7 separate regions of the Homo sapiens genome follow, and regions 1, 2, 3, 4, 5 and 7 are each reported to be linked to region 6. The links are microRNA targets in miRTarBase. Many come from high-throughput screens and were not tested one by one. Region 6 holds a microRNA gene; each other region holds the end of a gene's coding sequence. Distances are from middle to middle.
Evidence for each region. The annotated mature microRNA hsa-miR-6778-3p reads UGCCUCCCUGACAUUCCACAG and lies in region 6 at 1,965-1,985, opposite strand. An mRNA with a match to its seed (bases 2 to 7 or 8) in the 3' UTR can be bound and repressed. Matches are read on the target gene's strand: a 7mer-m8 pairs with bases 2 to 8, a 7mer-A1 pairs with bases 2 to 7 and ends in A, and an 8mer does both.

Region 1: miRTarBase lists CWC25 as a target of hsa-miR-6778-3p. Seed matches in the 3' UTR shown: 7mer-m8 at 2,250-2,256 and 7mer-m8 at 2,114-2,120.
Region 2: miRTarBase lists ZBED1 as a target of hsa-miR-6778-3p. Seed matches in the 3' UTR shown: 7mer-m8 at 452-458 and 7mer-m8 at 1,397-1,403.
Region 3: miRTarBase lists CLNK as a target of hsa-miR-6778-3p. Seed matches in the 3' UTR shown: 7mer-m8 at 3,036-3,042, 7mer-m8 at 2,902-2,908 and 7mer-m8 at 2,870-2,876.
Region 4: miRTarBase lists TTC31 as a target of hsa-miR-6778-3p. Seed matches in the 3' UTR shown: 7mer-A1 at 3,297-3,303.
Region 5: miRTarBase lists FAM185A as a target of hsa-miR-6778-3p. Seed matches in the 3' UTR shown: 7mer-m8 at 3,611-3,617.
Region 7: the mRNA of FBLIM1 is a reported target of hsa-miR-6778-3p. Seed matches in the 3' UTR shown: 7mer-m8 at 1,119-1,125, 7mer-m8 at 1,420-1,426 and 8mer at 1,587-1,594.

Annotation. Positions count from the first base shown.
Region 1 is chr17:38,798,789-38,802,853 of GRCh38, forward strand. It overlaps CWC25 (CWC25 spliceosome associated protein), which reads right to left. Exons shown (of 10, transcript NM_017748.5): 9 at 3,912-4,065; 10 at 1,653-3,418. The coding sequence ends at 3,304. It overlaps PIP4K2B (phosphatidylinositol-5-phosphate 4-kinase type 2 beta), which reads right to left and starts at 768. Exons shown (of 10, transcript NM_003559.5): 1 at 478-768. The coding sequence starts at 636. RefSeq lists an enhancer at 1-763.
Region 2 is chrY:2,484,821-2,488,885 of GRCh38, reverse strand. ZBED1 (zinc finger BED-type containing 1) reads left to right here. Exons shown (of 2, transcript NM_004729.4-2): 2 at 1-2,451. The coding sequence ends at 251. The region is part of intron 1 of DHRSX (dehydrogenase/reductase X-linked); the gene reads left to right. Among named protein-coding and RNA genes, the nearest start is that of DHRSX, 14 kb to the left of the region's middle.
Region 3 is chr4:10,486,884-10,490,944 of GRCh38, forward strand. CLNK (cytokine dependent hematopoietic cell linker) reads right to left here. Exons shown (of 19, transcript NM_052964.4): 19 at 1-3,730. The coding sequence ends at 3,584. LOC105374482 (a long non-coding RNA gene) reads left to right here and starts at 2,230. Exons shown (of 3, transcript XR_925387.4): 1 at 2,230-2,312.
Region 4 is chr2:74,492,671-74,496,735 of GRCh38, reverse strand. It overlaps TTC31 (tetratricopeptide repeat domain 31), which reads right to left. Exons shown (of 13, transcript NM_022492.6): 12 at 3,989-4,065; 13 at 2,177-3,814. The coding sequence ends at 3,518. Among named protein-coding and RNA genes, the nearest start is that of LBX2, 4.9 kb to the left of the region's middle.
Region 5 is chr7:102,808,085-102,812,148 of GRCh38, reverse strand. FAM185A (family with sequence similarity 185 member A) reads right to left here. Exons shown (of 8, transcript NM_001145268.2): 8 at 2,924-3,859. The coding sequence ends at 3,747. FBXL13 (F-box and leucine rich repeat protein 13) reads left to right here. Exons shown (of 21, transcript NM_001394494.2): 21 at 1-960. Among named protein-coding and RNA genes, the nearest start is that of FAM185A, 61 kb to the right of the region's middle.
Region 6 is chr17:18,338,850-18,342,914 of GRCh38, forward strand. It overlaps MIR6778 (microRNA 6778), which reads right to left and starts at 2,037; the gene lies at 1,965-2,037. It overlaps SHMT1 (serine hydroxymethyltransferase 1), which reads right to left. Exons shown (of 12, transcript NM_004169.5): 6 at 1,883-1,964; 7 at 1,194-1,406.
Region 7 is chr1:15,783,974-15,788,038 of GRCh38, forward strand. It overlaps FBLIM1 (filamin binding LIM protein 1), which reads left to right. Exons shown (of 9, transcript NM_017556.4): 9 at 575-2,616. The coding sequence ends at 688. Among named protein-coding and RNA genes, the nearest start is that of UQCRHL, 22 kb to the right of the region's middle. RefSeq lists enhancers at 2,418-3,182, 3,183-3,947.

The DNA.
Region 1 (4,065 bases), 20 Mb from region 6:
TGGAAGAATTTGAGCAGCCACAACAACCAAACGATCAGAAAGAGAGGACTATTTGGGCAGACCACTGCTACTTGACAGAGCTGGCAGCCGGCTGTAAGGAACAAGGGGGAATATACACCCTCACAAACAGGATGAGGGGGGAGGAGGAGAAGCAGGGATGAAAGCGACTCCACTGCACTGAGGCCTTGCCTTTGCGCTCCATGGGCTGCCCCAAGCGAGCACGCCACACGCAGGAAGCCAGAAGGGCTGGAGGGAAGGGGAGGTGGCGACGGCAGACCACAGAGACACCAGGCCTCGCGTGGCGTGCGGGGAGTGCACACGGGGCCGAAAGGCGTGCAAGGGTGGGGTGGGCGTGCAAGTGGCTTGGCGAGGGGTGGCAGGCGTCACCGGCAGGGCCTGCGGGGCAAGGGCCCAGGGCTGCAGGGGGCGTGGGAGCGCGCGGGGCCGCGCTCAGAGGGGCGCGCAGGAGCTGGTTACCGTGTGGTTCACCCCCCACATCAGGACGCTGAGGATCGGCTCGCTGGCCCGGAATAGCTTCACTTTCTGGCACACGAAATGCTTCTTCTTGGTCTTGGTCTTGCTGGCGCTGAGCGGCGCCACCGCCACCGCCGTGGTGCTGGTGCAGTTGGACGACATGCCCGGGGCGGCGGCGGCGGCGGCGAAAGAGGGGGGCGGCGGAGACAGCGCACAAGCCAGCGGCCTCAGGCCTCCCCCGGACCGATCCCCACCCCCGCTCCCTCACCGCGCCATGGTCGCGCCCGTCCCGTTACCTCCCACCCCGCCCCGGTGGTTCCGTCCGCCCCACGCCCCGCCCTCCCGCCCCGCCCCGGGGAGCCCGCCGGCCCGCTCCGCACCCCGCCCCCGGGCGGTGCAGCCGCCCTGCAGTCCCCTGGCCCCGTCCTCCCCGTCCGCGTGGTACGGCCCGTCCCGGGGAGGCAGCGGCCGCCCCGCCCGCCCCTCCTCCCCGGGCCTGACAGAAACCCGCCTGGCCTCCGAACGCCTCGGGGCCCCGTGCCGGAGCCGGAAGGGGAGGAGGGCTGGGCAGGCGTCGCTGTGGACCGCGGGAGGGGCTCCCCGCCCGGGCCCCCCAACGCCAGGGTTTGGCTCTTTCCCGCAACCCGAATGCCAAGATGGCGGCGATGCCACCGCTCCGGAAGGGAAGGAGGGACGGGAATGCGAGGAGGGCGGGACGTACCATGCCCACCCCGGGGGAGAGGAGGGACGCAGCAAGGGGAAGAGAAAGTCCAGCCTAGAAAGCCAAGGAACGCCCCCTCGCTCCACCTAAGCGTGGATCTGCCCACTCTGCTGGGCCCCGGGCGCGCTCCACCCGCGGGGCACGCCCCTTGCCCCCAGGGCCAATGAGAGAAGCAGGCCAGGAACACTGGTTTTTATGAATGGGCCCCGCGCCCACCCACCTGCTGCCTGTTCTCCCCGCAAAGGGTCAGAGCTCAGAGGCCGCCAGCACCTTCAGACACCTATCCCACTAATCGTCTTACTCTGGCTCATTTCGTAAAATCTTTGAGTAAACTGCCCCACGCTTTGTTACATAATTCTCAGATGAGGGATCTCCATATATTCGACACAAATTACAGGTCAACGTTGTTCTTTCTGCATGGAAATTCGTAAACACGGTACTCCACAGGTGGTCGCTCTTTAAACAGTTACAAAAATAAATGTGGCCTTTATTACCAATTATAAAATAAACATAATTAACCCCGGCATAATGAAGTGATTAAATGAATAAAAACGTATGTTACATTCTCTAGGGAAAGATCGGGTTTCAAGCATTACAGTGCCTGGCATCATAAGTGTTCAAAAACAGAAATCCAAATACATTTTAAGCAGAATTAGGAATTAGCAGAACAAGGAAATCGCCCAGCTAATGTGCGGGTCAAGAGGGCCTAGGAGTTCACTGGTCAAATGAGGGCTTCTGGTGAAAGAATAGAGAAGGGAAAAGGAGTAAAGACAGGAGAGTGGCCCCTCGAGGGTTTTGTTTTGTTGCTGTTGTTTTTTGAGACGGAATCTCGCTCTGTCACCCAGGCTGGAGTGCGGTGGCACAATCTCGGCTCACTGCAAGCTCCGCCTCCTGGGTTCACGCCATTCTCCTGCCTCAGCCTCCCGAGTAGCTGGGACTACAGGCGCCCGCCACCACGCCCGGCTAATTTTTTGTATTTTTTTAGTAGAGACGGGGTTTCACCGTGTTCGCCAGGATGGTCTCGATCTCCTGACCTCGTGATCCGCCCACCTCAGCCTCCCAAAGTGCTGAGATTACAGGTGTGAGCCACCGCGCCCAGCCTGTTTTTTGTTTTTTTTTTAGTACCTGACTGAAAGAGACTAGCAAACAACTCCTGAAAATCTGTAATTGTAGTAAGGTTACTACACGGTAAGAAGTGAAGCCGCAAAATAAAAACTTCCATTTTATTTTCCTTTAGGAGCCATGGAGCATATTGGCAATTTGGTTCTGACTCCTAAAATCATTTTACTATACCTTTACACTGCCTACATTGGAGACTGCAAGCAGTGGAAAAGAATAGATACTCCAGATCTCGTCGATAAACCCAGGCTCCTCCTAAACCAGCCAGATTCAGAGAGAAAAACGAGCTGGCCTGCCTTATTGTATTACTTGCCATCAAGGTTCAATGTGGTTCTATTACCCAGTAAAGTCATTGACCAAACAAGGTATTTTCACAAAGCTAACCTTTTTTAAAAGCATGTAAAAATTGTACATTTGTACATATACGCATTACAATTTTACATCCAAAGATCAAATAGTTAACAGTTCATTTAGGGCTTTTTGTATTGTTTGATTTTCCAGATTCTGTCACTCCCTTGGCTTTGACCTAACCTGACATCATTCTGTCACATTATCTTCTAAATCAAGTAAACGTTCATTTGTCTCAGTAAGCACAATCTATCTGGGTGACACCAGAGAGGTTTCTGAAGGGTCTGGTGTACGCTGAGGCAGTGAAATAGGTCTGTTGGCACAGGTAAGAAGGAAGTGGCATGATAAACATCACAACCCCAGGGAACAGCCTTCCAGAGTGGCACAAGCACTCCCACCGAGATGGTCCAGTGCCCACCCGTTAAAGAGTCAAAACCCAAAGTTACTGAGTGTCCCACAAAGCAAGTCACACTAGCTCTCAAAGGAAGTGAGCTGTTTCAGGACTCAATGAAGCAGGGTCACTTTGAACACTGGTGGTTTGACATCTGTGAAAGAAGTCATTTGAACTCTTATAAAGAGAATTAAGGGGTCAGCAGCTTCCCTGGAAAATGCAGGAAAACCAATAAGAGAGGGGACAGTTTTCATCTTTTCATAAAGTTCTTCTCCAGAGCTACCGAAGTTCTCTGTAAAGAGTAGATATTCCGCTTCACCCGATCCTCCAGGGAGGAAGTAGATGCACTCTCCAGCTTCATGCGGCTAGGAAGAGAAGACAGGCAAATGCAAGTCAAAAACATTTTCAATCAGTCAACTATTCTGGCAGCTTCAGAAGAAATGGGTTGTTAGCCATAGAGCAGCTGTAAAAACACAACCTCTTTTAAGCTCCCATAGATAACTTTCGAGTGACTCCACCTGGAACCAAATGTTTTTAAACCAGTGTCCATAAGGGAAAATGTATCTGTTTTGGAAAATAAGTCAAAGCCTCATTGGAAAAAGGCTTCCTGGGCCATGAATTCTTATTAAAAAGGAAGGTCAAGGAATTTCAATGATTTAGAAAATACCAAATTCACTTCTCCTCCCCTCAAATGAAAAACATCCCACTGTGTGGTCAGAAAGGAAGAGTAGTAGCCAAGGTGGTCTGAAGGCTGGGCTCCATGTGCAAACACAGAAACACTGGAACGGGAACCAGCTGCCAGCCTGCCTCTTAAGACCTTCCCCATGAAAGACCCTGGCAGGAAGAAGATGCACTCACTGGATGAACTTCCCATCCCGGGAGTCCAGCTTCTCTAGCCTCTGCTCCCGTTCCTCATCCTTAGCATGCCTCTTGAGGATGTTCAGTCTCTCCTCCTCCCTCCATTTGGCGTTTTCCATCATCTCTTGCCGTTTTCGCTCTAATTCCTCTGCAG
Region 2 (4,065 bases), not on the chromosome of region 6:
CGGCCACGCGCGTCGCCCCTGAGCGTCTCTTCGGATCCGCCGCCAACGTGGTCAGCGCCAAGAGGAACCGGCTGGCTCCCGCGCACGTGGACGAGCAGGTGTTTCTGTATGAGAACGCCCGGAGTGGGGCAGAGGCGGAACCCGAGGACCAGGACGAGGGGGAGTGGGGCCTGGACCAGGAGCAGGTGTTCTCCTTGGGGGATGGCGTCAGCGGCGGTTTCTTTGGCATTAGGGACAGCAGCTTCCTGTAGCGAGGAAGCGTGTTGTCTTACAAGTCATCCCCGCAGCAGCCCATTGGATGCTTTGCTGTAAATACTTACCCGGTCAGCTTGGTTTTGAACCTCAGAGACCATCCACTGTCTTTGACACCTAGAAGGTGGAAAAAGGAAAGAGATTTGAGAAGTGAGAGAGGGTCGGGGGCGGTGGCTCCTGTCTATAATCGCAGCACTTTGGGAGGCCGAGGTGGGCAGATCAGCTGAGGTCAGGAGATCGAGACCAGCCTGGCCAACATGGCGAAACCCCGTCTCTACTAAAAATACAAAAATTAGCCAGGACTGATGGCATGTGCCTGTAATCCCAGCTTCTGGAGGCTGAGGCCAGAGAATCGCTTGAACCTGGGAGGTGGAGGTTGCAGTAAGCTGAGATCGCTGCACTCCAGCCTGGGCGACAAGAGCGAGACTCTCTCAAAAAGAAAAAAGAAGACACAAGAGAGGTGGCTTTGAGTGGGTTTCCTTTCCTCCCCTATTCCCGGGGCCCGGACGACTTCTGCTTGGGAACTGCCAACGCTTCTGCTTGGGAATTGCGTGCAGCAGAGCCTAGAGGAGCTGTTCCTTCCTTCACAGATACTTAAGACCTCCACCATGTCTGATTCGAGTTCTCCCTGGGAGGGTTTAGAAGAAACGCAGGAACATTCTGGGTGGCGTCGAAGGAGCCTTTCCCGATCATCATGTGTGACTTCTGCGAGGTCCAGATCACTGAATTCATGTTTACATTCTCGTGCAAGCAGGGACCTCTTGCTTCTGAGAAATGGGGAAGAGACCTTTTAGCCAAAATGCCCTTCTTAAAAAGAGAGACCTTTTTTTTTAATGTTCGGTTAAAAATGTGACAGATGAGTACAAAAATGCAGACACTTAACAAAAAGCAAACAGAAAAAAAAGTGTGGAATGTGTTGTATTTTCGACAGGTTGCTGCCAGAGAGCCTGCTTCCTGCTGCCTGCCGAAATTTCACTTTGCGGAGTTGGTCCTTAAAACTGGGCGGTGGCCGGGCGTGGTGGCTCACGCTGAGGTCAGGAGTTCGAGACCAGCCTGGCCAACCAACATGGTGAAACCTCGTGTCTACTAAAAATACAAGAAACTAGCCAGATGCGGTGGCACCCGCCTGTAATCCCAGCTACTCGGGAGGCTGAGGCGGAAGATTCGCTTGAGCCCAGGAGGTGGAGGTTGCAGTGAGCCAAGACTACGCCACTGCACTCCAGCCTGGAGGCCAGAGTGAGACTCCGTCTCAAAACAAAACAAAAGTGGGTGGCTCACGGGTCCGGAGGTTATGTCTTCGGTGTCTCAGCCCTAAAAGTCCAGTTCCCCCGTGCGGCCAGCTTTTCCACATAAGGTGTTTTTGATTTGATTACCGGAAAGGACTCTTGATTCTTCTCTTTTAAACTGAATACCATAGGGGAAATGAATTTTAAAATATTGCCCCCGGAGGGGTTTTCCGTGGCTGGATTCCTGCGAGTTGCTTTCAGTCATTCAGGGAAACAGAAAGACGTTTTCCAACATGTAGAACTGCTTTTTAACTGGAGGAAAAATACTTCAGGAGGCTTAGCATATTGCTTGGATTCTACGTGCAGCGGGTTCTCTGCCTCCGTGAAGACAAGCTGGGCTGGGGAGAACGGTGTCTAGGAGGGATGACCCCACTCAGCTCCAGGCAGTGTTCTGCCGAGACCCCAAGAACTCGGGGTGTCAGAGGGCAAAGGAACTACCTGCCTTTCACGGCTGCTGACTTCTCAGGGCTGCAAGCAGCACAGAATGTTATCCTTACGTCCTGAGCCGGTTTAAGTCTGTGGAAAAGGAAGCACGGGAGAAATCCACGTAACCTTTGCTTTCTTTTTAAGGGAAGCGGTTCCGCCGTGAACTTGGAACCCTCAGCTCCGGGTGTTCTCGGCAGAAGGGCAGCTGGAAGGGACACAGTGGGGCAGGCTTTGGGGTTGCTCCCTGTTCTGCCCCGAGGCCGGGGACGCAGGGCAGCCCACGCCTCCGTGGGCTCCATTCTGTAGCATTGCCAGCGTTCTCTTCACGTCTCTAACAATCCTTCGCTTTTCCTCACTCACGTGGAAATGTGAACTGTCCCGGCTCTGTCTTCATTTTTATTTTTAAGCCATCGTTCCCCTCCTGAACGGTTGCCCCTTATTTAATGCTGTAAAGTTGGACTGTTGTTCAATAAACCAGAGCAATGCATTAGCTCCTCATTCATTTGTCTGCCGCGTGTCCGTCTGGACTGCAGTTTGTCTGAACCCCTTGATCCTGGGAGTGGAGGGAGGTTTATCATTATTATTATTTTTATTTTTGTTGTGGTCCTTGTTGAAAGCAACTTTTTCCAGGGCACCCACGGTCAGTTCTGTGCTCCTCTTTCTTGTCTGTAAATCCTCAAGTTATGATGTACTTTCGGGTGTTTTGGCATCAAAATTTCTGAGTGAATAAAGCCGGCAGCTGGTGAAAGTGTTCCCCGGGAGCAGAGATTTTTGCCGGTTCCTTCACTTAGTGGATAGTTGTATAAACGGAGGCCCCATGGACGAGGCAGCCTGGATGGATCCGGATGGCATCAGCGCCTTCCCTCTCCCCCCAGCCTCCTTATCACCCCTCTCTTCCTGTCTTCCTCACCTCCTCTCACATGGTCTCTTCCTTCCCTCCTCCTTCCGTCCAACCCTCCCTCTCTTCTTCAGCCAACAAATCCTTCCTTTCTTCCTTCTTTCCTTCCTTCCTTCCCTCCCATCCTTGTCTCTTCTTCTCTCCCTTCCTTCCCTCCCTTCCCTTCTTTCTTTCTCTCCCTTCCTTCCTTCTCTCCCTTCCTTCCTTCTCTCCCTTCCTTCCTTCTCTCCCTTCTCTCCCTTTTCTCCCTTCCTTCCTTCTCTCCCTTCCTTCCCTCCCTTCTCTCCCTTTTCTCCCTTCCTTCTCTCCGTTCCCTCCCTCCCCTCCCTCTCTGCCTCCCTTTCCTCCCCTCCCTCCTTCCCCCATCCCTCCCTCCCTCCTTCCCTCTCCTCCCTCCCTCCTTCCTTCCCTCTGTCCCTCCCTGTCTCCCTCCCTTCCTCCTTCCTTCCTTTCCTCCCTCCCTCTGTCCCTCCCTCCCTTTTCTCCCTCCCTCCCTTCCTCTTTCGTTTTCCTTCCATCCCTTTTTCCTTCCTCCCTCCCTCTTTTCCTCCCTCCTGAGAAAACAATGGCCCCCAAGAAACACAGGAAGGCCGGGATGTGCACCTCTGCCCAGACTTGCCCTTTCCAAGTGCTGTTGGTTGACTGCCTGTCCTTGGGCATCATTAAAATGCCGAAATTTCTCTTTCTTGCACGTTTTGGGTTGAAAGGGGTTCATTTTCAGTCCTCATAACTAAGCATTTGCATCGTGATGTTCATTTAAGTGGGACATGTTTACACGTTTTTCCCATTAGGAGTAATTCTAGTCCTTGAGGGTTTCTTACAGAGACATTTCCCTAACCCCGACGGTTCTCATCCCAGCCTGTGTGGCACTCCTTCCGCACAGTGGTGGGATTTTTCGGTTCGGTTTTGTTTTCACGCTTGCATCTGGCTGCACAGCCCTAACTCTGAGCTGGTTGTTTTTGTTTCCCCCCCACTTTGCAGAATTGCCTGCTTCGAACTGTTTTCCCAGCAGGCCTCTGAAGGGTGAGGAAAACAGCTTGGGGAAAGTGAGAAAAAGGTTTCGGATGTTTTAGTAAAGAGGCAGCTGGTGGGAAGGAGCCGGTTGGGCTGTTTCTGGGGTGCCGAAATCTCGGTGGTGACGTTCATTTGCTCGTGAGTGCAGAGGAGGCCCAGAGACCGGGTTCCTGGCGCAGCCAGCTCCTG
Region 3 (4,061 bases), not on the chromosome of region 6:
TGTTTGTATATTTATTTGTCATCTATCTCTCTTATTCACTGCTCTATTTTCAACATCTACAATAGTGCTTAGTAATGAATACACATGCAGTACACAAAGGTGCTAACACAATATATGACTAATGATGAGGGCTATGCACATTTATACAGAATGAGAATTATTTAGTCCAAAAAATATCTGGAAAGCATAAATGCTGTAATTGGATAAAGCTAAAATTCTATTACTCTATTGAAATCAGATATCAAGTGATACTTTTAAACTAAACGTGAGGTAATGGTTGAAAAGGGATTAAAACACTGGAATTTGGGCATGCCAAATCCAAATCATTGAATATTCAATTACAGATCTAATAAAGCAGGTAGACCATGAATAGGATAATTGCATATGGAGACCTTGGTTCCAGTCGCGACTATGTCACTGTGAGATTTTGGCCAATGAGGTACAATTTCCTCAATTATAAAATGCATTAGAAATAGCTGCCCTCTCTTCTTTACAGAAGTGTTGTAAGAAACAAATACAATCGAATTTATATACTCTTATTATTTAATCATCCATTACAAGCAAAATGTAAATGTGATTGTCCTTACTACAATCAACACTGAAAACAGTGAATTCAGGATGTTGCTGTGGCAGGCCAGAGGTGGGTCTCTTGAGTCTCCATTGAAATAACTTGCTGGCCAGCAAGTTAGTGGACAGCGTCCAGCTGCGCCTTCTGGATTGGCCACAGCATTTGCAGGTCTTTTTTTTTTGTTGTTTTTCTTTTTCCCAGGATAGCCCCAGACAATGACTTAACAGGATGGGGCACTAAGACCCAGACATTACTGCCCAGCATAACACTGTCTCCTCTCTGGGCAAACTTTGCTTTGGGCCTCACTATGAGCTGGCCAAAACTCTCCCAGAGCTGTGTCTGAATCTCATGCTTTTTCTCCTCACTCCCCACACCTCCCCTCTTCCCTCTCACAGGTGGGAGCCTGAAAGCCCACCCCATACCCATACTTCTGTTTCTTCTCCCTTTTATCTTTCTCAAACATTAACCTCCAATCAGTGTTTGCACTTCTAACTTTGTCCTGGTGTCTGAGTTCTAGAAAACCCGACACCCAATCCCTCAAACCCCAATCACCAGAAGCAGCCCATGTCAGTATTTTCCATTTTATATTTTTTACAGAAGTGTTCAAATACACAAAAATATTGTAAGCTTTTTATTGCAAGATGTTTAATTTCTTTTTTTTCTTCCTTTTCCCCTCATTCTTGCTGTCATCTTAAGGATGCTGAATTTCTACTTCTTTTTTCTTCTTGGAATTATATGTTGTATTTGTGAACAAGAGACGATAAAATATTATTTCAAACGTACACCTTATCAAATGCTAACCCCCACTTGACATTCACCTATTTTATCAACAGCAATGGTTGAGAGGACTCATAGACATTTCTTGAGAACATAGCATTGAATGGCATGGCCTCAATGAATCAGTGAGTTGGAGGTATCAGTAATCTCCCAATAGCTTTTTAGGGTGAGGGTCAGATTCCTTCTTAATGTGAGCCTGGAGCTCTTCTGTAAAGTCCTTGTTTCCATACTGTCCCTGGCTTGTTGAATTCCAGTAGAGAATGACCAGCAACCATACAGCTTTTAGCTTTGACCGGACCAGTGAGTTCTTTCGTATCCAAGCTCCAATTTAAACACTCTTGTCTCTTGGTTCTATGTAATCCTCTGCAGGCATACTCTACGATAGGCTCAGCTGGGTCTCAAAAGTTCCAGCTTTACAAATAGCTTCTTCATTAAATGCTCCTGATGTAACTTATAGGCATCACTTCACATTGACCTTGTGAAAGGAGAACACCTGAGCAGGTATTTGGATAGTGGGTAGATGCTAAGAGCTTTTCCCAGAGAGCTCATTGTCTGCTGTCTTACAAAAGAGATAATCCTGCACATTGTTTTTATTGTTTTCATTTGCTTCTATTGCCTTTTAATTATTTTTGGTTTTCTTTCTGCATCAATGCTACAATTACATAAATACTCTATGAATTTCCTTTGTAAGCTTTGGTAGCATTTGACATCATGATATACTGTTATTTTCGACAGACAGTATGTTTTTTAAAAAAGCTTATTCCCACTAGAAGAGTTTATTTATTTTAAGGTGGTAAATCTGTATTTTCAAATTGTTTCTATCTTTCTCTCTCTCTCTCTCTTTTTTTTTAAATTAGCTTTTCAACTTGATTGTAAAATGTCACAGCGCAGAGAATGTACCTGGGAAGATGAGCTTGCATGGAGCCAGGCAAAGCAGATTACAATCTGGGCTCTCTTCTCATATTGAGTAAGATCAATAGCTACTTCGAGCCTCTGTTTCCTCATCTTTATTGTAAAACAATAATAAAATTAAATCCTCTTAACCTCTACAGGGAATAATATCATGGCCTGTGCAACGTTACTGCAAGAATTAGCACTAATTTGAGGACAGTTTTTCTCTGTCTTTGAATGGAAGTCCATAATTGGAATTGTTAATACAATTTTTAGTTTCCCTCAGACATATGCTTGCCTGAAGGCTAGTGTAGGATATAATCTGAGCTCTGTACTATGAATGTGTTAATTCCATTTGACTTAAAGCTACTTGAAGCAGATGATGCTGGAGGCTGGTCCCATGACCGTTTCACACCCTAGTCAGAGGATTTTCAGTTTCTGTCTTCAAGGTGACATTCACAATTGCTGGTTTTCCATACCACATTTCTTCCCTATACTTGAATTTCTAGGATTACAATAAAAGAGAGCTAATATTCACCAACCCAACACCTTTTTTTTTTTTTGAGACGGAGTCTCTCTGTCCCCAGGCTGGATTGGAGTGCAGTGGCGCGATTTCGGCTCACTGCAAGCTCCGCCTCCCGGGTTCACACCATTCTCCTGCCTCAGCCTCCCGAGTAGCTGGGACTACAGGCACCCACCACCACGCCCAGCTGATTTTTTGTATTTTTAGTAGACATGGGGTTTCACCATGTTAGCCAGGATGGTCTTGATCTCCTGACCTCGTGATCTGTCCACCTCAGCCTCCCAAAGTGCTGGGATTACAGGCATGAGGCACCGCACCCAGCCCAGCATCTTTAGTGTAAGAAATCATCCACACATTGTATATATGTAAGGCCCAACAACTGACATAAAGGCAGCGCAGTGTCCTGTAAAGAGCACAGATTTGGGAATTTCCCATAGACTTGTCTTGCACTGACTGCAAACATTTAAGCAACAGCTTCTGGTGCCCTTTGCTGCTCGCCTGTATCATGAGCATAATGGCTATGTTTATAGTATTTTTTGTTGTTGTTTTTTAGAAGATACTTTTAAAACCCTAGTTTTTATTTTTATTTATTTTCCAGTGGCCAGTTACTAGAATGTTTTTATTTTTTGCATGTTATAAATATTTTCTCTGTGGTTTGAACTTTCAAAACCGTGAGTGATTTTCCACTCTCTGTTATAGAGTGTTTTTCTTTTCTCCAAAGTTAAAAAAGTTGTCCCTTGAAGGCACAGAAAATAAACTTTTGAAATCAATGAAAACAATGGAAGCGCTGAATCCAGTAAACCAAAGATAACACAAAGACCAGGCTACAGAGGCAAGAGGTGTCTGGTGAGAGGGAGTGGCTGAGTGAGGTGACACTGTTTCCTGTGGACCCCAGTTTTATCTTTCCCATCAATTAGTATAATGGGAAAATTCTTGTAGTGTTCGATGATGTCTTCTACTGAATCAAACTTCTGAAACACAGAAAAGAAAGTTAATGACTTTTAAAATATCTTTTGTGTCTGTAGGTTAAAGTATAGCCAAGGTGCTTCATTTTGCATGGGGAAGAGGTGAACCAATTTAACAATGTTTGTATGGTAAAGGTGTTTCAGGAAGTGGTTTTTGGTTTGTTTGTTTTTTTCTGAGACGTTGTTTTGCTCTGTCACCCAGGCTGGAATGCAGTGCCACAATCTCGGCTCACTGCAACCTCCGCCTCCCGTGTTCAAGTGATTCTCCTGTCTCAGCCTCCCAAGTAGCTGGGATTACAAGCATGCGCCACCACGCCCAGCTAATTTTTGTATTTTT
Region 4 (4,065 bases), not on the chromosome of region 6:
TTCAGACTTTCTCCTGCCTCTGCCTAAGTGTGACAACCCTACTTTCAAGGAAGTTCCATGGGTTCAACGGGGGTCAGCTAGGGCCTTAGTTGCAGGTGGAGGGCCCAAGAGAGAATATTCCTTGGAAAGTGAACAAGGCTGGAAGGCAGAAGGGAATCTGGCATTTTCAGACAGTACCACTTATTAAGCAGTTCCAAGTGCTTTGCAGGTATTAATCCTTAAAATAACCCAACAGGACAGAGACTTTTCTTTCCATTTTAAGGATGAGACTGAATTACAGAACCCTGAGGAAACTTGGCCAGGTCACAGTTTGTAAGTGGTGGCACAGGGACTGAGCTGTTTGCTTGTCCGACTCAGGAGCCCATGCTCTTGGTCTCTATAAAGGTGACTGAGCCTAAAGGAAAGAAGCAAAGGATTTACAGAGAAAGGGGAGGAGAAAGGGCCACAGGTAGGGACTTAGGCATTGTACTTTAGAGCATGGTCCCTGGAGGTTTTAGAGAAGAGAGACAAGAGACCATTGTTTAGGGTAGGCCAATCTGGCTGTGGGCGCAGGTTGGATCAGAGACTGGTAGAGACCTGAAAAAGGGAGTATATATCTGGCCACTGCAAAAGGTAACAGCAGAGAGAACTCAGGGCCAGACTTGAGGTGGGGCTGGGAGGTGGTCACAGAAGAGGAATCTGCGATTGCCCCAGGGATCAAGGATTGCATGAGTCAATGACAACCTAGCAAATGTGGGCAACTGGAAGAAAAATGGCAACATGGAAACAGACAGTGACCACTGGTGTGGAGCTAAGAATCTGTCAGCCATTATGCATATGCAAAAAAATAATTCTTTGCAACTGCATTGCCCCTTCAGTACTCCCTTCTAAATACTGCCTCTCTGGAACATTTCCAGTAGGGTGATCAACTCTTTCCCATCTGCCCAGCATTTTCCAAGTTTTGGCATTGAAAGTCCCTCACTCCAGAACATCCCTCAGTTCCAGGAAAACCAGGATGGTTGGTCACTCTACTTTCCAGTCCTGGGAACTCAGAACTCAGGCTGTTGGGTCAGACCCCTATTAATTAGGAGGGTGAAAATGGGGCAAAGTGTCAGGAGTCACGTGACTCTTGGAGAAGCTACAAGTCCAGGGCAGGCTAAGGTACTGGGGAGGGAACATTTACTTGAGAAGCTAGAACAAGGAGCCAGCTCAGCTGGAAGGCAAAAATACCATTGAGTAGTGGTGGGTGGCCTTTGAGAGGTCAGGAGCCCTACAGACATCCCAAAAGCATGCAGGTCCCTGCTCAAAAACAGGAAAGCCAGATGGGCAGGCCTCTTATGGAACCACTGTAATATAATCACCCCTTGGACAAACACAACCACCTATGCCCATCCTGCTCCCCAACCAGGGGTGAGCAAAGAACTCTCAGGGCAAATCCTTCTAGTTAGGAAGGTAGGGTCCAGTCAAATTAACTGGCTGAGTCATAACCTCTCTCCCCATTGAGGTTTCCCAAATTCTAGCCCAGCTAGCACTGCCACCTCTTATACTGAAGACTTGGACAACAAAACTCAAACCTGTCCCACCAAAATGGCCTCTGGATGGAGGTCTGCTCCGCTAAGCCCCGCCCTTGAACAGTGTGTATCAGGATCACTTGGTAGGTTTATTGAAACACAAATTGCTGGGCCCTGCTCCCATGGTTTCTGATGTAGGTCACTGCAGGGGGCCTGAGAAATTGCATTTCTTTTTTTTTTTTTTTTGAGAGTTTTGCTCGTTACCCAGGCTGGAATGCAATGGCGCAATCTCGGCTCACCGCAACCTCCGCCTCCCAGGTTCAAGCGATTCTCCTGCCTCAGCCTCCCGAGTAGCTGGGATTACAGGCATGTGACACCACACCTGGCTAATTTTGTATTTTTAGCAGAGGAGGCGTTTCTCCATGTTGGTCAGGCTGGTCTCAAACTCCTGACCTCAGGTGATCCACCCATCTTGGCCTCCCAAAGTGCTGAGATTACAGGCGTGAGCCACCGTGCCCAGCCTGAGAAATTGCATTTCTAGTAAGTTCCTGGATGATGCTGATGCTGCTAGCCTAGAAAGCACACTTTGAGAATCCAGTCCCAGAACTCTGGATTTTGTGAATTTCAGCACCAATTCACCCACACTCCTCTCTTCCTATTGTGGGAAGCATGACTATGTAGGACAGTTGCAGACAAAAAGTGGTTTATTTAGCACCCACTATGTACCAGGCACTTGGGAGGTATTTTCTCACACTTTCGCTTTCCATCCTCACAATATCCCTTATGAGGTAGGGACTACCCTCATTTTTACAGGTGAGGGAACTGAGGCTTAGATGTTGACAGACCCATCCAAGGTGACCCAGCTGGTAATGGTAGACTTCATCCTGCTACACAGTATTTAAGGGGCCTAAACCATAAACAATTTTTAAAAATTTGGGAAAGTCACACATAAAGGAGATGTTTCAATACCTTCTCTCTCCAGGTATGAACAGTATTGAGCAAGACCCACAGGGCAGCAATAATCATTTATCCTGATGAAAGGTTCCTCTGTGAAAGGTAAGGGGGTTGGGGGAGACCTAAAGCCTTCTGCAGACCCACATTTAAATGAGCTGACAGTCCCAGCAGGACTACAGAGGAACCAGCTAGGGGAAGCTGCCAGGATCTTAGACGTGAAATTAAAAGGAGATCATGCTTCTTACCCAGGAAGTGGGGAATTCAGTTGACCCTTGAAAAAACTGAATAAATTAACATGGGGAAAGGCTAATTACCATGCCCAGTGCTGGGGTGGAGAAACAGAGTGGCCAAGGTTGTAGCAGCTTGGGCACCTGCTGAGGCCCCATTCAGCGGGAGAGCCACCAGTTGGGAGTGTGGACATGTATGGCCCTACCAGCTCTAAGCAGGAGCTGGTAAGGGACTTCCCAAATGCAAACCCTTGGTGAATATTCTAGCAGTGAGAGGAGGTGAGCACCAGACCACTGGACAAGAGAGGTCAGAGTCATACATAGCAATCTGGACAGGAAATGGCATGAGGAGCTGTGAGTAATCTGGGGGCTATGGCTAGAAAAACAGGGCACGAGCTGGGGCTGAGAAGAGGTGAGCATCCATCAAGCTGAAAGGTGGGACTCAAGCCCCCTCAGCACTGTGACCCCGTTCCTGTACACCAAGCTCTAGTTGGTGAATGAGGTCCCCTGGACCAAGAGGAAGAGAAAGGCCCAGATGCTTTCTCACTGTCTCTGCTATAGCCTAAAAACCTGAACTTTTCTATAGTTCCCTTCTTGAGCCTTGGTGGGTTTTATTTTTCCTTACTGCCTCCAGAAGAAGCTTGAGAACCAAAGGATGTTTCAGTGGATGTGGGGCTCCTTTCTCTCATCAGAAGCTTCCCCATGGCAAGAGGAATGACTGCCAGGGCATCATTAACTATGGATCTAGAGAATAAGGTCTCAAAATATGCAGTGAACTGTCACCACACTATGTCCCCCACCAAGGGATATATACATGGCCCTGCCCTATGAGGGACCGGTGCCCCCTCATCTGGCCTGAGACAGATGCTGGAGCCCAAGTCCCAGGATGTCCCAGCCCTTTGAAGGGTCCTGGGGCTTGAGAGGATGGGGCCTTCTACTCTGAGTCTGGGAGAGGGGCTGGTTGGGGTGGCTTCGGTGACATGAAGGATAATGCAAGAGTGGAGACAGGCCAGGGGACCTCAAAGCAGTGCTTCGAGGGCACCTGAGGGAAGGTAGGCCTGAGGGTGCCAGCTCAGCATGGGGAAGTGGCTGGAGGGCCCCAGGTGACAGAGGTGGTGCACAGATTCCTCCTCGCTGACCCTGCTGAGAAGGGAGAGAGAAGGGCACCAGATCCTTCTTTTAAGCAGGAGAGCCCATGCCTCTCATTCCACCCATCCTTCCCCGCCCCCTCCTTAGCCACCTGAGGCTTGGTATTGCAGTCCCAGCCAATTCTCCCTGATACCCGCCTCAGCATGACAGTGTGCCTGGCCCCCTTACCAGTGTGAGGTGGAGAAGGCAAGAGCGGAGCTCTCGGGCTGCGTCAGGCTGGGACCCACCTCTCAGAGTTTCCTGAA
Region 5 (4,064 bases), not on the chromosome of region 6:
CTGACTGCCGCAAACAAGCCTTGTCAGCAATATCAGATCAGCCTTTTAACCTTTCTATTTCCTCAATTACTTATCTCTCACGTGGAGTTAATTCTCTTTTTGTATCCCACAAGTTTCAAATAAGGATTAAAAACTTAAGATAAAGCATCGTTATTTTGAAAAGTTTTAAAAAGATTGTACAAAGTATTATTATAGGCTACCTTGTATTAGCTAAATGCTTTTAGTAATTCTCCCCCACTGAGGTTGACTTGCAAAGTTTTTGAAATAAGGTAATATTACTTAGCTGTGGAAAGGTTCCTAGGAGTGGGCACACAGGCAACAGAATCATTTGAGTGGGAAGTTTTAGACCATAGCCAAGAGACATAAGATGACATAAGAGTATGATTTTAACCTAAATTTGGAAATTTCTGGCAGCTGCATTAAAGATGTTTTCAAAAATCTGATCCCTAAGTGCTTCATGCACACAACTGGTGGAACTTATAAAAGAGGCAATTGCTTTCTAAAGGAATGACACCTGCACTGGTTAGACCCCGGTAAGAAACACACCCTGTTATGTTCTCCAGAAACCTAGCAGGTTGCTTTACATTCAGAGCTTGCTCCAAAGCTCTTTGAGTAACATCCTTTCTTAAACAAGAACAGAAGACACATTCATTCATTCTGGGGAGACAAATTTTACAGCTACATAAATGAAGAAAAGGAGTAGAAAAAGTGAGCTATGAAAGGAGACCAAGAATAGGGATACAGGTAGAGAAATCTTTTAAGTTTTCGATGCAAACTACTCAAAATATCAAAGATATTAGTTAGGTCTTTAGCCCTTACGTATTTCATATTCATAGGTCTGTGTCCAAGAGAGTAAATTATGGCAGCTTTTTCTTTTTGTCTGGGACTTAACAATGTGATCCAAATATGTACAATTCCATTAGTAGCTTTAAATATAGTTGACTGCTGTTATGCTTATGACTTTTCTGGCTGTGGTTAGCTAATTTATTTTTAGTCATGAAAATGTTTATGTAATTGCATGAGGGTGAAAAAAGATTATCAAAACTGCCTCACTGCTACACAGTTTCCTCTACTTAATAGTATAACACACCACAACCATACCAAATATACCAATGTGTGAGTATCTTTCAGACTTGTATACATTCTGATTTCATGAAGGGTGAACTAAAAGGAGACTCTGAGATATCCTACAAAGCTGACTTTTGTTTCATAAATAAGAAGTTAAAAACAGAACTCTAAAGAAATGGAAAATTAATGAAAAGGAGGCTGGGCACAGTGGTTCATGCCTATAATCACAGCACTTTGGGAGGCCAAGGCAGAAGGACAACTGGAGGCCAGGAGTTCGAGACCTGATGAACATAGTAAAACCCATCTCTATAAAAAATTTAAAAATTAGAGCATGGTGGCACCTGCCTGTAATCCCAGCAACTCAGGAGGCTGAGGCAGGAGGATGCCTGAGGCCAGGAGTTTAAGGCTTCAATGAGCTATGATCATGCCACTGCACTCCAGCCTGGGCAACAGAGTGAGACCTCGTCTGAAAAAAAGAAAAAGATCATCATAAATAATAATATTTGGAAAGGTTTATTAAAAATTAGTGTTTAAGAATGGACTTCTCCTGGCCCGGTGCAGTGGCTCACACCTGTAATCCCAGCACTTTGGGAGGCTGAGGCAGGCAGATCACATGAGGCCAGGAGTTCAAGACCAGCCTGGCCAACATGGTGAAACCCATCTCTAGTAAAAATACAAAACTTAGCTGGGCATGGTGGCGTGCACCTGTAATGCTAGCTACTGTGGTGGCTGAGGCATGGGAATCGCTTGAACCTCGGAGGCAGAGGTTGCGGTGAGCCAAGATTGTGCCACTGCACTCCAGCCTGAGTGGCAGAGCAAGACCCTGTCTCAAAAAACAAACAAAAAAAGAACTGACTTATCTTAATCATAAAAAATATAATCCAAGCGATTTAGGCCATTCTTGTTTTGCTATAAAGGAATACCTGAAGCTGGGTGATTTCTAAAGAAAAGAGGTTTAATTGACTCACGAGGTTTAATTGGTTCTGCAGGCTGTGAAAGCATCGCACGGGCCTCTCTGCTTGGCTTCTGGGGAGGCCTTAGGGAGCTTTTACTCATGGCAGAAGGCAAAGTGGGAGCAGGCACATCACATGGCAAGAGCAGGAGCAAGAGAGAGACGGGGAAGATACCCACACTTTTAAACAGTCAGATCTTGCAAGAACTCACTATCATGAGGACAGAACCAAGAAGGTGGTGGTAACAATTAATGAGAAATCTGCCCACATGATCCAATCAGGCCCCACCTCCAACACTGGGGATTACATTTCATCATGAGATTTTGGGGGACAGATATCCAAACTACATCACCAAGAGATAGGTCTGGTCTTATAGTATAGTTATAGTATTATATAACTTATTTGTTTATTTTAATTAATTTTTTTGAGACGGAGTTTCACTCTGTTGTCCAGGCTGGAGTAAAGTGGTGTGATCTCGGCTTACTGCAACCTCTGCCTCCCAGGTTCAAGCGATTCTCCTGCCTCAGGCTCCCAAATAGCTGGGATTACAGGGATGAGCCACCATACCCAGCTAATTTTCTTTTTTTTGTATTTCTTGTAGAGATGGGGTTTTACCATGTTAGCCAGGCTGGTCTCAAACTCCTGACCTCAAGTGATCCATCCACCTTGGCCTCCAAACTGCTGGGATTACAGTCATGAGCCACTGTGCCTGGCCAGTATTATATAATTTAAATGTTCCAGGAATAGAGATGTTTGAAAGAAATGGAATTCATAAAATATCTTTATACAGTATACCTTTATAAAAATCTATCTTCATACATCAGGCTATAAAATAGCTGTTTCTTTTTTCCTAATTAGCTATATCTTAAGTTACACAAAAGATATTAAGAATCAGTAGCAACTGCTTCACATATTTGTTTTTTATTTACAGCTTAAATTTACATTGATGCCATAAAAGGTACTAAGTAGAAAACCTGTCATGTGAGAGCTACATTATAAAGAATTCTAAGCTAATTGTCCCCACATGATGGATGCCTTTGTATAATCTCCTTTCCTTGAGTGGGAGTGAAAACTGAATGTGATGGGCCATCACTCCTATGAATGTTACATTATATGGCAAAACAAAGGTTATCCTGGGTGGGCCTGACCTAATCAAGTGAGCCCTTTAAAAGTATATATTCTTCCAGCTGGCTGCAGAAGAAGTCAGATATTCAAAGCATGAGAAGAACTCAGCGCATCACTGCTGGCTTGAAGATGGAGGGGCAACATGAGAAGGCATGTGGGTGGCCTCTAGAAGCTTAGAGTGATTGCTGGCTGACAGCCAGCAAGAAAATGGAGACCTCAGTCATCCAGTCACAAGGAACTGGATTTTCCCAATAATCTGAATGAAGTTGGAAGTAGATTTCTTCCCAGAGACTCCAGATGAGAACTCAGCCTGGCCAAAATCTTGATTTCTAGCCTTGTGATTCCCTGAGCGGAGAACCTAGACATAGCTGTAAATGAGTATTATTTTATGCTGCTAAATTTGTGGTAATTTGTTACAGAGCAGTAGAAAATGAATACAATAGCAAAGCACAAATTTTGAAAAAGCCTCCCAAAACAGTTCACCAGTATTCATTCTCAATTTGTTGTTTTCAACCTTTATATGAATGGTGGGATTTACATTTTTGTAGTCACAGATCTGCGAATCATTGTTAAAAATCATAAATCCAACTCAAATCAGTTTTAGTCCTGCAGTTTCAGGGACTGAAACCAACTTTGCCTTCTAAAACTTACAGTGCCTTTTGGGGCATCAGCCTTAATCCATTTTTCACGTTTGCTTGCTTGATTCATGAGTCCTAAAACACAAAATTGCATAAAATTATATCAAGAGCATTAATTGACCACATAGATCCTAGCAACACATCTCTGAAACTGAAAAACACCTTAGAACATCAAGAATCTTGGTAAAGATAGTCTGAACTGGGCAGGAGTTGCAAAGAGGTTATCTGGGCTTGCTCCCCTCCATTCATTTTCTCAGAACAACCCTGAGAGGGAGGCTAC
Region 6 (4,065 bases):
TGCTCATTAAGAGTCATCACCACTCCCTAATCTCAAGTACCCAGGGACACAAACACTGCGGAAAGCCGCAGGGTCCTCTGCCTAGGAAAACCAGAGACCCTTGTTCACTTGTTTATCTGCTGACCTTCCCTCCACTATTGTCCTATGACCCTGCCAAATCCCCCTCCACGAGAAACACCCAAGAATGATCAATAAATACTAAAAAAAAAAAAAAAAAAAAAAAAAAAAAAGAGTAATGTAGTCACCAGAGGGCTGGTGTCTCTGCTGATGCAAAGTTGGCGCATCAGGTCTCACCACAGGCTAAATGATGACCTGACCACTAACAGGCTTTCCCAGGTATGGGAATTCGAAAATAAGGGGAGTGCCTAGGGGTAGGTTATGAGGTAATGGAAAGAAAAACCTTCACTAAAATGATATTAATGTTTATACATCCATGTCTTCTAGTTTGACTACTATGAGTCTTTCTCTTTGAGAAACATGATGGATCACTGTAAGTTCACCAGAATAATGCAGCCTTGTGAGGCCTCCCAGTGGCCCCCAGCCAGCCATGCACCCTCCTTTCATTCAAACACCTGCCTCTCGAGTTCAGCAACCGGCGCCATCCTAACACATAGTGGTTGCTGATCCCCCTCCTATGTTCCTAGGACCTGGATGCACAAAAGTGAAGCAGGAGCTGTGGCTGACAGTCTCCTTCTGGGGATTCCTTTCTTTCTTTCTTTTTTTTTTTTTGAGACGGCATCTCGCTCTGTCGCCCAGGCTGGAGTACAGTGGCACAATCTCAGCTCACTGCAAGCTCCACCTCCCAGGCTCACGCCATTCTCCTGCCTTCGCCTCCTGAGTAGCTGGGACTACAGGTGCCCACCACCACACTCGGCTAATTTTTCGTGTTTTTAGTAGAGACGGGGTTTCACCGTGTTAGCCAGGATGGTCTTGATCTCCTGACCTCGTGATCTGCCCGCTTCGGCCTCCCAAAGTGCTGGGATTACAGGCGCGAGCCACCTCACCTGGCCGGGAATCCTTTCTGTAAAGCCTGTCACTGCTCCTTCCTAAGCAGCTCTTTAAGGGACTGGGATCTTAATATTTTCCAAGGATCCCAGGTCAGAGTTTTTCCCAGCTCCCTCAACTGAATCTGAACCCCCACAGGAGAAATGTAAACCATGGTACCCATCTGTACCCAACATTCGGGAGCTCACCTTTCCTGTAGAAGATCATGCCAGCTCGGCAGCCTCGCAGGGTCTTGTGAGTGGTGGTGGTCACCACATGGCAGTGTTCAAATGGGGAGGGCACCACGCCAGCCGCCACCAGCCCGCTGATGTGAGCCATGTCCGCCATGAGATACGCCCCGTTCTCATCTGCAATCTTCCGTAGCCGGGCATATTCCAGGTTTCGGGAGTAGCAGCTGGTTCCTGAGACAGGAAAGGTGACACAGCTGCATCAGAGATGTCCACCGGCCAGCTGAGTTGGCTTCACAGTGGCCTCTAGATGTGCAGATCTGAAAGCCCAGAGATTTCTTCCCTTAAAGTCTCAGAGCAAAAATGGAGAATGCCCTCAAAAAGCACCTCTGTGCTAAAGGCAACCACTCTAACTCTTCAACGTCTTGGTGGTTGAGATGGCCCCAACTACTATTGCCAGCGCAGTCAGGGCCTGACATTTCTAGATGCTTCTCTGAGAACAGTCTCACATCTTAATCTACATAGCACAAAAAGCAGCAAACACACATCTGTATCCTGAAAGAAACTAATATATGTAGACCCCAGAAACTCAGTTATCCAGGGCAGAAACTAGCAGTGGGCTCAACAGGGTGCGAACATCTTTCCATCCTCATTCTGTAAGAGGCACCAGGCTACTGGTGAACAAGGTGACTTTCCGCCCCGCGCATCACCTGCGATGATCAGCTTCGGGTGGAAGAGGCGTGCGTTCTCCTCCAGCTGGTCATAGTTGATGTAGCCAGTATCTGGGTTCACCTGTGGAATGTCAGGGAGGCAGGTTCAGGCTGCTTCCTCCAACCACACCTGCCTCCTGTCCTCCCACTTGAACTGGCTCCACCCACCATGACAAGAGGAATGATGTCCTAGATGAGGACTTGAGGGTGAGACAGGATGGATACTGGTGTGTTCAGCCTGCTCAACCAAGTATGGCTCACAGACCCAGGAGTCCCTGAGGAGTCCCAGGGTTGTAGTGAGCCCTGCTGCTGGGGCACTACCTGCTGAGAAGGAACCAAAAAGCACCTGCAGAATGAAACAAATGTGACGGGACCACACAATGGAAACCAAAATGGTTACCTTCAGGAACAAGACCAAAATGCCTGCTAATACTACTTCTATTCCAAGTATAATGAGGCAAGAAAAAGAAACAAAAGGCATAACGATTAGGAAAGAAGAAATTTAAAAACTGACATTACACACAGACAACACAATATACCTAGAAAATCAAGATGCTAGGGGCCAACTGTTAGAATAAGCAAATTTAGCAAGGTCACTGGATACAACATTGAAAAACAAGAAGTAGGGGCTGGGCGCGGTGGCTCACACCTGTAATCCCAGCACTTTGGGAGGCTGAGACGGGCAGATCATGAGGTCAGGAGATCGAGACCATCCTGGCTAACACGGTGAAACCCCGTCTCTACTAAAAATGCAAAAAATTAGCCAGATATGGTGGCGGGCGCCTGTAATCCCAGCTACTTGGGAGGCTGAGGCAGGAGAATGGCGTGAACCCGGGAGGTGGAGCTTGCAGTGAGCCGAGATTGTGCCACTGCACTCCAGCACTCCAGCCTGGGCAACAGAGCGAGACTCCATCTGAAAAAAAAAAAAAAAAAAAGCCAAAAAGTATATAAAAGCAAGAAAGATAGAAAATGAAATGTAAATAACAAAAACCATAAAAGGAAAATCATACCAAACCTTTACACAAAACATCATTGCGTTGTGTATTTTGTGTCACAAAATGCTTGACAAATTATAGTAATTAAGGCAGCACGCATTCATGGAAGGGCAGAGCATCTGGCTTAACCAGAAGCAGAACCACACACAACACAGGTCATTGGATCCATGCCAGTGGTGACGCTGCAGTGCAGTGGGGAGAGGATGACCTTTTCAATCAATGGCACTAGGTCAACTGGGCATCCATTTGGACAAAAATGTTATCTGGATGCCCGCCTCACCCACACAAATCAATTCCATATTCAGCAATCCCACTTGTGAATCTATATCTTAAGAACTTGAAATCAGTATGTCAAAGAGACATGTGCACTCCCATGTTCACTGCAGCACTATTCACAATAGCCAAGTTATGGAATAAAGCCATGTCCATCAACAGATGAATGGACAAAGGAAATGTGACACATATATATATAAACAATGTAATAATAATCAGTCTGAAAAAAGAAATTCTGTCATTTGCAACAACACCGATGAACTTGGAGGACCTTATGCTAAGTGAAATACGCCAGGCTCAGACAGACAAATACTGCATGATCTCACTTCTTTTTTGAGACAGAGTCTCACTCTGTCACCCAGGCTGGAGTGCGGTGGTGCCATCTCGGCTCATTGCAACCTCTACCTCCCAGGCTCAAGCGATTCTCCCACTCAGCCTGCTGAATAGCTGGGACCACAGGCAGTGCCACCACACCCGGCTAATTCTTATATTTTTGTAGAGATGGGGTTTCACCATGTTGCCCAGGCTGGTCTCGAACTCCTGGACTCAAGTGAGCCTCCTACCTCGACCTCCCAAAGTGCTGAGATTATAGGTGTGAGCCACCGCACCTGGCCATGTGATCTTACTTCTATGTGAAATCTAAAACAATCGAACTGCTGGGCGTGGTGGCTTATGCCTGCAGTTCCAGCACTTTGGGAGGCCGAGGCAGGTGGACCACCTGAGGACAGGAGTTTGAGACCAGCCTGGCCAACATGGTGAAACCCCGTCTCTACTAAACATTCACAAATTAGCCAGGCGTGGTGGCGTATGCCTGTAATCCCAGCTATTCGGGAGGCTGAGGCAGGAGAATCACTTGAACCCAGGAGGCGGAGGTTGCAGTGAGTCAAGATGGTGCCACTGCACTCCAGCCTGGGC
Region 7 (4,065 bases), not on the chromosome of region 6:
AGGTCAGGAGATCGAGACCAGCCTGACCAACATGGCAAAACCCTGTCTACTAAAAATACAAAAATTAGCTGGGTGTGGTGGCACACGCCTGTAATCCCAGCTACCTGGGAGGCAGGAGAATCGCTTGAACCCGGGAAGCAGAGGTTGCAGTGAGCCAAGATCGTGCCACTGCACTCCAGCCTGGGCGACAGAGCAAGACTGTCTCAAAATAAATAAATGATAAAAACAAATTTTAAAAAATAATAAAGGAGCTATTAAGACTCTTCTAGCCCCAACTTTCCCTGAACCCTCAGGGGACTTCCCCAGGTGTCCTTAGTTCTCCTGACGGTGAATGTCTGTCCTCACCGGCGCCTCCACGTGGATTAAAGCCTCCATGTGTGTCTGTGTCTCATCTTCCCTTATGGAGACCTGGCCCGGGTGTTGGGAGGGCAGCAGTGAGCAGCCTCCTTCCTCCCACTTAGGAAGGGCATCCACTCATGCAGTTGGTTTATTCGGCAGATGCCAAGTGAGTCCCTCCCCTGTGCAGGCAGCGCCCAGGCCCAGGGCGGGTCAGCATGTGTCTTTGTCTCCCCAGGACTGCAGGATCCTCCTGTCTGTCGAGCCCACGGACCAAGGCTGCTACCCCCTGAACAACCATCTCTTCTGCAAGCCATGCCATGTGAAGCGGAGTGCTGCGGGGTGCTGCTGAGAGTGCCCGCTGGGCAGTGAACAGACCACTAGCCCCGGCTGGGGCCCTTCCCTGACTTGGTTTCCCTTCCTAACCTGCTCTTGCACACTTTCCTTCTGAGCCTCCATGGAGACCAGCCTGCAAGCCGGCCCAGCCTGTCCAGGATACAGTGGGGCTGAGCACCCCCAGGCCTTCCACTCCTCTACCCTCTGGGCACCAGAAGGCTCCTGGACCATGAGCTTCACCCCCAGAATTCCCTGCTGACCCTGCCCCACTTCCAGGGAAAAGCTGGGGGAGGTTGGACCCCTCTCACTGACTAGCTGTCTGGTAGGGGTGCTAGGACCAGCCTCGCCTGTGGGGTTGAGCTGTTTGAGGACAAACTCCAAGGTCCCTTAAAAAGTGCCTTTTAGAGGCTGGGCATGGTGGCTCACGCTTGTAATCCCAGCACTTTGGGAGGCCAAGGTGGGTGGATCACCTGAGGTCAGGAGTTCAAGACCAGCCTGGCCAACATGGTGAAACCCTGTCTCTACTAAAAATACAAAAATTAGCCAGGCATGGTAGCAGGTGCCTGTAATCCCAGCTACTGGGGAAAGCTGAGGCAGGAGAATTGCTTCAATCTGGAAGGCAGAGGTTGCAGTGAGATTGCACCATTGCATTCCAGCCTGGGCAACAAGAGGGAAACTCCGTCTCAAAAAAAAAAAAGTGCCTTTTAGGCCGGATGTGGTGGCTCATGCCTGTAATCCCAGCACTTTGGGAGGCCAAGGCAGGCAGATCACTTGAGGTCAGGAGTTTGAGACCAGCCTGGCCAACACGGCAAAACCCCGTTTCTACTAAAAATACAAAAATTAGCTGGGTGTGGTGGCGTGCGCCTGTAATCCCAGCTACTCAGGAGGCTGAGGCAGGAGCATTGCTTGAACCCGGGAGGCAGAGGTTGCAGTGAGCTGAGATGGCACCACTGCACTCCAGCCTGGGAGACACAGCGAGACTCTGTCTCCAAAAAAAAAAGTGCTTTTTGAAAATGTTGAGGTTGAAATGATGGGAACCAACATTCTTTGGATTTAGTGGGGAGCATAATAGCAAACACCCCCTTGGTTCGCACATGTACAGGAATGGGACCCAGTTGGGGCACAGCCATGGACTTCCCCGCCCTGGAATGTGTGGTGCAAAGTGGGGCCAGGGCCCAGACCCAAGAGGAGAGGGTGGTCCGCAGACACCCCGGGATGTCAGCATCCCCCGACCTGCCTTCTGGCGGCACCTCCCGGGTGCTGTGTTGAGTCAGCAGGCATGGGGTGAGAGCCTGGTATATGCTGGGAACAGGGTGCAGGGGCCAAGCGTTCCTCCTTCAGCCTTGACTTGGGCCATGCACCCCCTCTCCCCCAAACACAAACAAGCACTTCTCCAGTATGGTGCCAGGACAGGTGTCCCTTCAGTCCTCTGGTTATGACCTCAAGTCCTACTTGGGCCCTGCAGCCCAGCCTGTGTTGTAACCTCTGCGTCCTCAAGACCACACCTGGAAGATTCTTCTTCCCTTTGAAGGAGAATCATCATTGTTGCTTTATCACTTCTAAGACATTTTGTACGGCACGGACAAGTTAAACAGAATGTGCTTCCCTCCCTGGGGTCTCACACGCTCCCACGAGAATGCCACAGGGGCCGTGCACTGGGCAGGCTTCTCTGTAGAACCCCAGGGGCTTCGGCCCAGACCACAGCGTCTTGCCCTGAGCCTAGAGCAGGGAGTCCCGAACTTCTGCATTCACAGACCACCTCCACAATTGTTATAACCAAAGGCCTCCTGTTCTGTTATTTCACTTAAATCAACATGCTATTTTGTTTTCACTCACTTCTGACTTTAGCCTCGTGCTGAGCCGTGTATCCATGCAGTCATGTTCACGTGCTAGTTACGTTTTTCTTCTTACACATGAAAATAAATGCATAAGTGTTAGAAGCTCTTCCATGTTGTGTGTAGGCTCTCACACAGGTAAACGCTGGCGTTTGGTAGTAGCCCTGGGCATCTGCTCGCTGTGGCGGGAGTGTCCGAAGAGTGCTGGGGCTCAGCTCAGCAGATGGAGGGGCTCATTTCCTGCCTCATGCCCAGCACTGGGGCCGGCCAACTCACTGGGTGTGCTTCTCCTGGACACAGGCCACCACTGATGGGGTTGGCTGCAGGAGCCTCAGTAGGGCTGCCAAATGCTTTAAGAATTAACACTCATGCCGGGCGTGGTGGCCCATGCCTGTGATCCCAGCACTTTGGGAAGCTGAGGTGGGCGGGTCACTTGAGGCCAGGAGTTTCAGACCAGCCTGGCCAACATGGTGAAACACCGCCTCTACTAAAAATACAAAAATTAGCTGGGCATGGTGGTGCTTGCCTCTAGGCCCAGCTACTCGTGAGGCTGAGGTAGGAGAATCTCGAACCTGGGAGGCAGAGGTTGCAGTGAGCTGAGATCACAACACCGCACTCCAGCCTGGGTGATAGACTGATTCAAAAAAATAAGAATCAACAGTCAGGCTGGGTGCAGTGCCAGCACTTTGGGAGGCCGAGGTGGGTGGATGGCTTGAGCTCAGGAGTTTGAGACCAGCCGTGTCAACATGGCGAAACCCCGTCTCTATGAAAAATGAGCTGGGCACGGTGGTGTGCACCTATAGTCCCAGCTACCTGGGAGGCTGAGGTAAGAGGATCACCTGAGCCCAGGAGGTCGAGGCTGCAGTGAGCCGTGATTGTGTCACTGCGCTCCAGCCTGGGTGACAGAATGATACCCTGTCTCAAAAATAAAAAAAAAACACCCCCAGGGCGTGCTCCCTGCACATAACTAGGCTGCTCTCCCTTTTCAAGCTTGCACACTGACCCCTGGGCTCACTTGGTGAGCACAGGCCCAGAAAGAGTTGGCCTGAAAGAGCACTGGCTTGGTGACAGGCCACCCAGATCTCAGACCTATCTCTGTACTCAATAGCGTGGACAAGTTAGTAACCCTCAGCCTTGATGTTCTCATCTGGAGCAGTTTAAAACATTTTATTTATTGGCTGAGCGCGATGGCTCACACCTGTAATCCCAGCACTTTGGGAGGCCGAGGCAGGCAGATCACAAGGTCAGGAGTTCAAGACCAGCCTGGTCAACATGGTGAAACCCCATCTCTACTAAAAATACAAAAATTAGCCAGGCGATGTGGCAGGCGCCTGTTATCCCAGCTACTTGGGAGGCTGAGATAGGAGAATCGGTTGAACCTGGGCGGCAGAGCCTGCAGTGAGCTGAGATTGCGCCACTGCACTCCAGCCTAGGTGATAGAGTAAGACTCCATCTCAAAAAAAAAAAAAAAAAAAAAAAAAAAATATATATATATATATATATATATAAAATGTATTATAAAAATAGAGGCCGGGCGTGGTGGCTCATGCCTGTAATT